2 linked regions of the Homo sapiens genome follow. The protein of the gene in region 1 purifies or fractionates together with the protein of each later gene. This does not show direct contact. Each region holds a gene or a part of one and is shown on either strand. Other genes may lie near its edges. The genes, in order: ATP8A1 and DCBLD2.

Evidence for each region.
Region 2: the proteins of ATP8A1 (region 1) and DCBLD2 fractionate together in Homo sapiens (co-fractionation; one large-scale study listed by BioGRID). This does not show direct contact.

The regions. Positions count from the first base shown.
Region 1 is NC_000004.12:42,646,992-42,650,820, reverse strand, and holds part of ATP8A1 (phospholipid-transporting ATPase IA), read left to right. Parts: intron 1-3,829. UniProt on the Homo sapiens protein: Catalytic component of a P4-ATPase flippase complex which catalyzes the hydrolysis of ATP coupled to the transport of aminophospholipids from the outer to the inner leaflet of various membranes and ensures the maintenance of asymmetric distribution of phospholipids.
Region 2 is NC_000003.12:98,807,393-98,811,221, reverse strand, and holds part of DCBLD2 (discoidin, CUB and LCCL domain-containing protein 2 precursor), read left to right. Parts: coding exon 1-28; intron 29-3,047; coding exon 3,048-3,141; intron 3,142-3,829.

The sequences.
Region 1 (3,829 bases):
TTACATATAATAAGGATTAAATTGTTCAGAACTAAAGAAATGCACACACACAAAAACTTCACATACCTATCCAGTGGTTTGTGTTTTCTTCTGTTGAATACTATAATGCTAAAATATAATGACATTTATTTGATTATGTAAAATATGTGCTAAACGATGTATCCAGAAGTTGTTTTAGGAATTGTTTTTCTAAATGGCAACTCTAAAATGTTTGTAACTATGTAGAATAGTATGTTTTATTTACATAAAAGGTAACAAAAGGAATAAAAAGTAATTTAAGCTGTCCTTAAAGGAAAAATTTTAGGACGCTATTCCAGGTAAAAGATGACTAAGGTTTTTGTTCCTTTAAAAACCACTTATTATGCACCAGCTGTGTGCCAGCTAAATGGGTGGTGGGACAAAAGGCTGTGGTCGATGAAGGAGGTCCCAAAGGAAACATGGAGATGAGTATGGAGATGAGTTCAGTTTTACCTGAAGTGGCACTGTGTGAGAAGGTGTGTATGAGTATAGCGATACAGCATGTCATCAATATTTGAAAATCTCAAAGTAGGTGTCATTTTACTTAGTGTAATTCTGGAGATATAAGTGTATTAGATCTGATTATTTTAGGTTTTCTATCTTCAGTGCAGAATTCATGGTTTGTTTTTTCTGTCATTTCAAAAACAGAATTGAAGCATATACCTAATGTTACAGCTGTGGGAATGTTTGCAAAGGTCAGAGGACACTTTTGAAGTTAACGAAATGTTTGCTGCGTGGGTCTCTATTCACATGGTTTCATTGGAATGTCAATGACATGAAGGCCACCACTTTCCCCTTCATTCTTTACTTCTTAGCGAAAGGAGCCCAAACCTTCCAATGATTGTATTCTCCGGGTAGTAAGCTCCCTAAGGGCAGGGGGTTTTGTCTGGTTTGTCCACTGATATATTGCTCCCCATGAGGACATTGCCTGGCACATAGTAGGCATTGGTTAAATGAATGAATCTATGTCCTAAAGATGAAAATGCCTTATAATCCAATTTGTAAAATACTCAGAGCTAAATCTAGATGTACTAAATCTAGTACCCTCCTACTGAAACCTTAGCACCCCAAAGGAGCGTTTTTGTGAGATTTGTTCGCTGCTGTACCCTCTACACCTAGAGTTTTGTCTGCCACATAGCCACCACTCTATATTTGTTGAATGAATGGATAACTCTGAGCTTTGTTTTTAATGGAAGAGCTTAACTATGAGTCTTGATAGAAGTACTGCCTGCTTACTGGGAAAAACTCATGCTTCAGAAAGTCTTGCAGGAGAGAGTAAAATTCATCACAAACTATGCCATCCAAATATAATCACATTGTGATTATAAACTTTTATATACTTCATATAAATTTATATATTTACAATGTTAGAATTTTAGTATATGTCCTTCCCAACTATTTTCCAGAAAAGATATATTTGTTAGGAAGAATGAGGTAATCTGCATTATTTTTAATAATTTTATGGATATCTGTGCCAATATAGATTTGTGTAAATTTTGTCTACTGTCACTAGTTATATCCTTAGTGCCTGGAATAGTGCTTGACACTTGGTAGCAGCTCAGTAAATTTTTGTTGAATGAACAGATCAATTTTATTAATTTTATGACAGCTTAGCATTTTTATGTTAGTACAGAATAACTTACTAAAGAACCCTGTGGGTGGACATTTAGGTCATTTCAGTTTTTTAAACTCTTGAATAAGCATCTTTGTATCTTTTTGTACACCTTTCTGATGGTTTTGTTCAAAGTCCCTAGAAATGGGATTTCTGGGTCAAAAGTATATATCTTTTTATGACTTTTGATACATATTTGAAAATTGCTAGAAAGATTATACTGGTTTACACTCCCACTGAAAGTGAATGAGAGTGCCTGTTTATCCCTTTTGCAGCACTGTATAGCATTTTTCTTCCTCCTTATGGATATAGAATGTAAAAAGTAAGTCTTTAAGTTTACATTGCTTTATTAGGTTTAACATATTTTGGTAAATGTAGTGATTATTTTTTTCTGAATTGTTTATCAAGTTTTGTATTGAAGTTTAAGAACTTATATGTTAACGATAATACCTTTTTTCCTTATTCATAGTTTATCTTAACTTTGTAGTGCTTTAACATGTATGTAAATTAATTTTTATGAAGTATAATCTTTCCTTTTTTTAAATTTCTGCTTTAATGTCATATTTTTCAAGATAATTTTTCAATTATATTTTTCTTTTAGTACTTTTGGGTTTCATTTTAAACAGTTATATTAGTAATTCCTGTGTGATTTACTTTGTGGTGAAATGTGAGGCCTGGATCTAAGTTTTTCCTCAAATTATTTACCTGACATAATAACCATATATTTAATAATCCTTTCTTCCCACACTGATTTGAGGTGCTTCCGTATGTATATATTTGAGTTTTTTTCTGGAGTCAGTCTCTCTTTCCCTTCCCCCCACCCCACCCGCCGCCACCTCTCTTTATTTTGGTCCCTTTTAGCCCCTGGTATCAAATTCCTTTATTGCAACATAACAAAAAATATTCTCTTAGCTGTCCCATTTGCTTTGCTCTTTTCTCTAGGTTTTTCTGGGTTTTCTTTCCCCCACAGTTGTATTTTTCTACTAGAATTTATGAGTACATCATTGAATCAAGTTAAAAAACATGTTGGAATATTTATTGGAATTGCATTGTTTATAAATTTATATTAAGAGAATTGGCATCTTTCTTATATTGAGTCATGTATGCTTAGTTTCCCTCTTCAATTATTGCTACTTTGATATTGGTATCAGTCTGAATTCATTTCAGTTTTTCAGTTAATTTTTGTCTCTGTAGGTTTTAAAATTATATTGTATGTCTTAAAGCAAAGTATTTTTAAATGAGGTTTTAAATTAATAAGATTTGACCAGGTATCTGTTGGTTTTACTACTTTTTGAGCAAGAATGGTTCATTTCTATCTGCTGATGTATTGTGGACTCTGCTTCCAACTTACCACTTTTATTATTTCATGTAGTGGCCCTGACATGATAGCTGAGATATTACTCTTTTTTCTCCTTTTTGCTAGGAATAAGGTCAAATTTAGACCAACTAGATTTAGCTAATGGTTCCATGGAATCTACTTACAAATCAGCATTTATATCTCAGATCAGCACTAAAAGAAATAAAACGTGAGCCACAATCAAGCAGCTACATTTAAAATGTAAAAAGAGATGTTAAATGAATTTTAATACTATATATTTAATATTAAATAATACAAGTAATAGTGTATTTAATATATAAATACTAATATGTATTATAAATATAAATTGTCTTTGGCCCAATATATCCAAAATATTATTTCAATATTTTGTTATAAAAATTTATGAGTGGTAGTTTACATTTTTTGTGCTACGTTTTCTAAATCTGGTGGGCATTTTATAGTGCATCTCAATTTGTACTATTTCATGTGCTCAGTAGCTACATGTGACTAGTGGCCACTGTATTGAACAGCATAGTTGTAAATTATACCTCTAGCATATGCTTACTTGTTAGGATTTACTAGAATTTTTCAGAATATAAAATTTTGTGATGGAAACCCATAGCTCAAAGTAAGCTTGTTAGAAATACATATGTAGATCTTGAGGTTTAAGTCTTCAGCTCCCTTCTTAACAACAGAAGGCAGTCACGTGTGTATAAAACTTCACACATTATATGGGTGCTTAGATAATACTGCCTTTGACTTGGCAGTTTAGAGGTTTTATGTAAGTACATTGTGGCATCTTTTGTAGCCTGTTTTGTTTCCAATTTTTTAATCTCTTATAAAATATATTTGATAAATAAAACACCCTGCCATGTCTTCCT
Region 2 (3,829 bases), on another chromosome or scaffold:
ACTACCGTAACTCCAAATGTAACCAAAGGTATGCAAACATGGAAATGAACGCCTAGTACATAGTATTGTTTTGTTCTTAACTGAAGTTTTCACGGGCATTTTTAAACCTTCAGTTTATTTTCTTCCAACTATAGTTTTTAAGTATAGCAAAAAAAAAAATTTATTTTCTTTCATAGGAAAAGACTGCATTGATCTAAGTTGTAGTCTCTGCTGCCATGTAGAATTGCTCTTTAAATATTTAGAGAAGGCCACTGTGTTGCAGGCCTCCTCTTGTGATTTATTGTTCCTTACAGCTAAACATGTTGACTCTCAGGCTTAGAAATACAATATTTTCTAGAAATAACTGAAATCATAGCAGGAAACAAACTTGTTTCCCTTGATAATATATTAATTTGATGGATAGGGAACTTGATGGCAAAAAGGGGAAAATAAAAACAGAACTTTTAGTAGAAACTAGTAATTGTTAAAAAATACTCATAGTTAACATATTCATAAAAAAAAACTTTGGTCTCTTTTTAAGTGTTTGCAATTATATTTTTTAAGATCATAAATAGAAATTTATTAGAATTTACTTTCAAGTTTTGTTATCAGTGATAAATAAGGTCTCAAAATACATAAAACATAGTAGTCTTACTAGTTGTTGAAAAACAAAATTTCAATTGAATTCAAAAAAGTGTCAGTGTCATAGTAGACTAAGTATCAGAGTTGTCACATAAAAAGCTTCCTTGTTTTCAGGAAAGTGCAGAGAGAGAAAGCCGTTCATCCAAAGTAATTTGTGCCACATAGAACTTCAGTCATTCTCATTTTTTGAAAGTTTGCCTGGATTCAGATAACTTTCTCTGACTTTCCCCATGTTGGTTCTTTCCCATCTTCTGAAGTATTTTCACAAAGATGAATTACTTTCTCATGCTGCAGGTACAGCTAGAGAGAATCAAGGGTTCTCAGAGGCAGGAGATCTCAGCATCTTTTAACTGCTTACCAGTTGTCAGAAGGCATGTACTAAGGCAGAATCCCAGACCACATGCCTGGATGGAGATCAGTCACTGAAAAGTGTTGCTCATCTTAAAATCTGATTGCATCTCAGACCCTCAAGGCTAAAAAGAGTCCTTAAATAATTTCCTTCCAGAATTAGGATCCCTGTATGCCCAAAAAGAATAACAAAGAATGAGTTGGTCTTCTCAGAGACCTCCTGTCTCTTTTTTAGGGGGATGGTAGTATATAAATTTATTTTTTGAACCTAAGAAGATGTTTTAAAGCCTCTGATTAAATCACACAGCATCCATCTAAACTTGATTATCTTCTCTTGTCTCACTAATCTTATGGAAAAAGCACATTTACCGTTGTGAATTCTGAGTGCTTTCTAGTCTAAGTCATTATTTCTGTTTATGGACTTCTCCATTTTTACAGCCAGGCTGAGAGTGATTTCATGGAAAAGATTATGTCATGGTCAGATTTGTGCCTCTGTAGTTTCCAGGTCCTCCCTCAGTGGGGCCCGTGGCACCAGCTGGCTGACCTTCTGAAAGGCTGCAGTAGCTCTTCTGTCTGTTCTCAACTGTAGCTATTTTACATATTCCCCTTATTTTCAAGCCCTTCACCCAGATATCTTCACCCACTCTCAGTTACCGCTCCAACTTCACAGAGAAAGTAGGGAGTTTCCTTCCAGTGAAACTCCCTTTTTGTGGAGCCTACAAACCTATCTGTATCCTCTGTTCACTGCAGTGAAAAGGGGGCTTCCTTATGTTGCCCAAGGCTGATTATATCACCTGTGCCCTGGTTCCCCTCGATCTACCTCTCAGGGACCCAATCTTACTGATTATCCTCTCCCCCTCCTGTATCTTCAGCCTCTTTCTCTCTTTTGGATACAGTTGTTTTAAGGAATAAAGAAGATGGTGCAGGTTAGACTCATTGCAGTGTCCGGCTCTGAGCCCCCAGTAAATATCAGCAGGTGCTGCTATTATCATCTTCATGGCAAGTAGGGGGTTGAGCGACAAAGGAAGAAACTAATATCCCAAGTGACCTTAGGCAGATCATTTTCTATATCTGGGCCCAGAATTCCTTATCTCTGGAGTGAAATTAGGGGATTAAATGATCCCTAAATCTCTCCCAGTTCCAGCATTATGCTGGCTTCTGACCTGGTCACACACACATTTCCAATTGACTTTCTTAACACCACATTGTTACCTTCCCATATATATATATATGAATGTTTTGCCATTATGATGTAACGTCATTTCAATTGCTGGATTATTTTCTCTTGTAAGGAGGATACCATGATTTATTCCCTCTCATTTTTGGGCATTTGGATTATTTCCAATTTTTCACTCTTACGCAGAAACAGGGAGAACATCTTTAAGGATGCATCTTTTTTTAGTTTCTGAGAATAAATTCTAGGAATGGAATTGCCAATAGATTTTTGTACATATTGCCCAAAAATGCCAATCAGTGAGATAGCATCAGTTTATATTTCCATTAAAAAATAACTGTTTCCTGGTAGCCTGTTCATCAATTAGTTGTTGTTTTAAATATTTGCCACTTTGATTAGCAAAAGTAGTATTTTGTTGTTTTAACTTTTTTTGTGTTGGTTGTTTAACTTGTATTTCTTTGATTACTAGTGAAGTTAACATATTTAATGGTTACTTGTATTTTTTAATGTATTACTAGTTAATCTCTGCTGATTTTTCTCTTAAATGTTTGGATTTGGCTTGTAATGCCCTACAATATAATAATTATTTAAAGTAACTCTTCTCATATGTAGAAAATATATTTTCCCAATTTTTCATTTGTCTTTCAATTTTATTTTAGTGATTTAAAAATTTAGGAAAATTTCACATCTCTACACAGATGGAATGAATAGTGTAACAAGCTTTTGTGTATCTGCAAAAGCTTCTACAGTTACCACCACATGCCCAGTCTTGACAAATAATGTTTATGGTATTTCCGTGAGGTAGAAAAATGTTGAAAGATGATGTGGTTAATTTTCCCTAGTGATTTCTGCCTTTGGTGTTAATATGGCTTTTGTTTGTCTGTTTTTGTCTTTGTAACTTCAGATGTAGCGCTGGCTGCAGTTCTTGTCCCTGTGCTGGTCATGGTCCTCACTACTCTCATTCTCATATTAGTGTGTGCTTGGCACTGGAGAAACAGGTTAGTACATAACTAGTTCACCTGAGTCCAAAACTACCAAATGTGAAGTAGAAGCTAAATATAGAAGATGAAAATGTTTACCTGTTTGAGAGTGAGAGTTAAGGTAATTATTAAAATGAAAATTTCATGCTTCTCCTTTATTCCCATTAAAAATAAATAAGTTCAATTCCACAATCAGTTACTAAGTACCTTTTTTGTATCAAGTTCTGCATTATACACTGGGATATGTACATTAATATGAACAATTTCTGACACATGATAGTTACATTTACTTAAAGAATGAGACACAATTCCTTTCTCTGAAGTGTTTAGCAGGGTTGACTAACAAGGAACTATATCATGTGGTTTGATGAGTTATGAACCATGAGAATTAACTGAAGTTTTTTCTTCGGGAAAGGGGACTCCTCAAGTTTGGCTTGCTTTGCCTTAAAGGAATTGTAGTTGGCTAGATAGAGGAAGGTAGATGTCTTTGTTTGGGATGCTGTAAGAAAATACCATAACCTGGGTGACATAAATAATAGAATTGATTTCTCACAGTTCTGGAGGCTGAGAAGTCCAAGATCAAAACACTGCAGATACTATGACTAGTGAGGGCCTGCCGTCTGGCTCATTCATCAACAGTGCCTTCTTGCCCGATCCTCTCATGGTGGAAGGGATAAACACGCTCTCTCAGGCCTTTCCTGTAAGG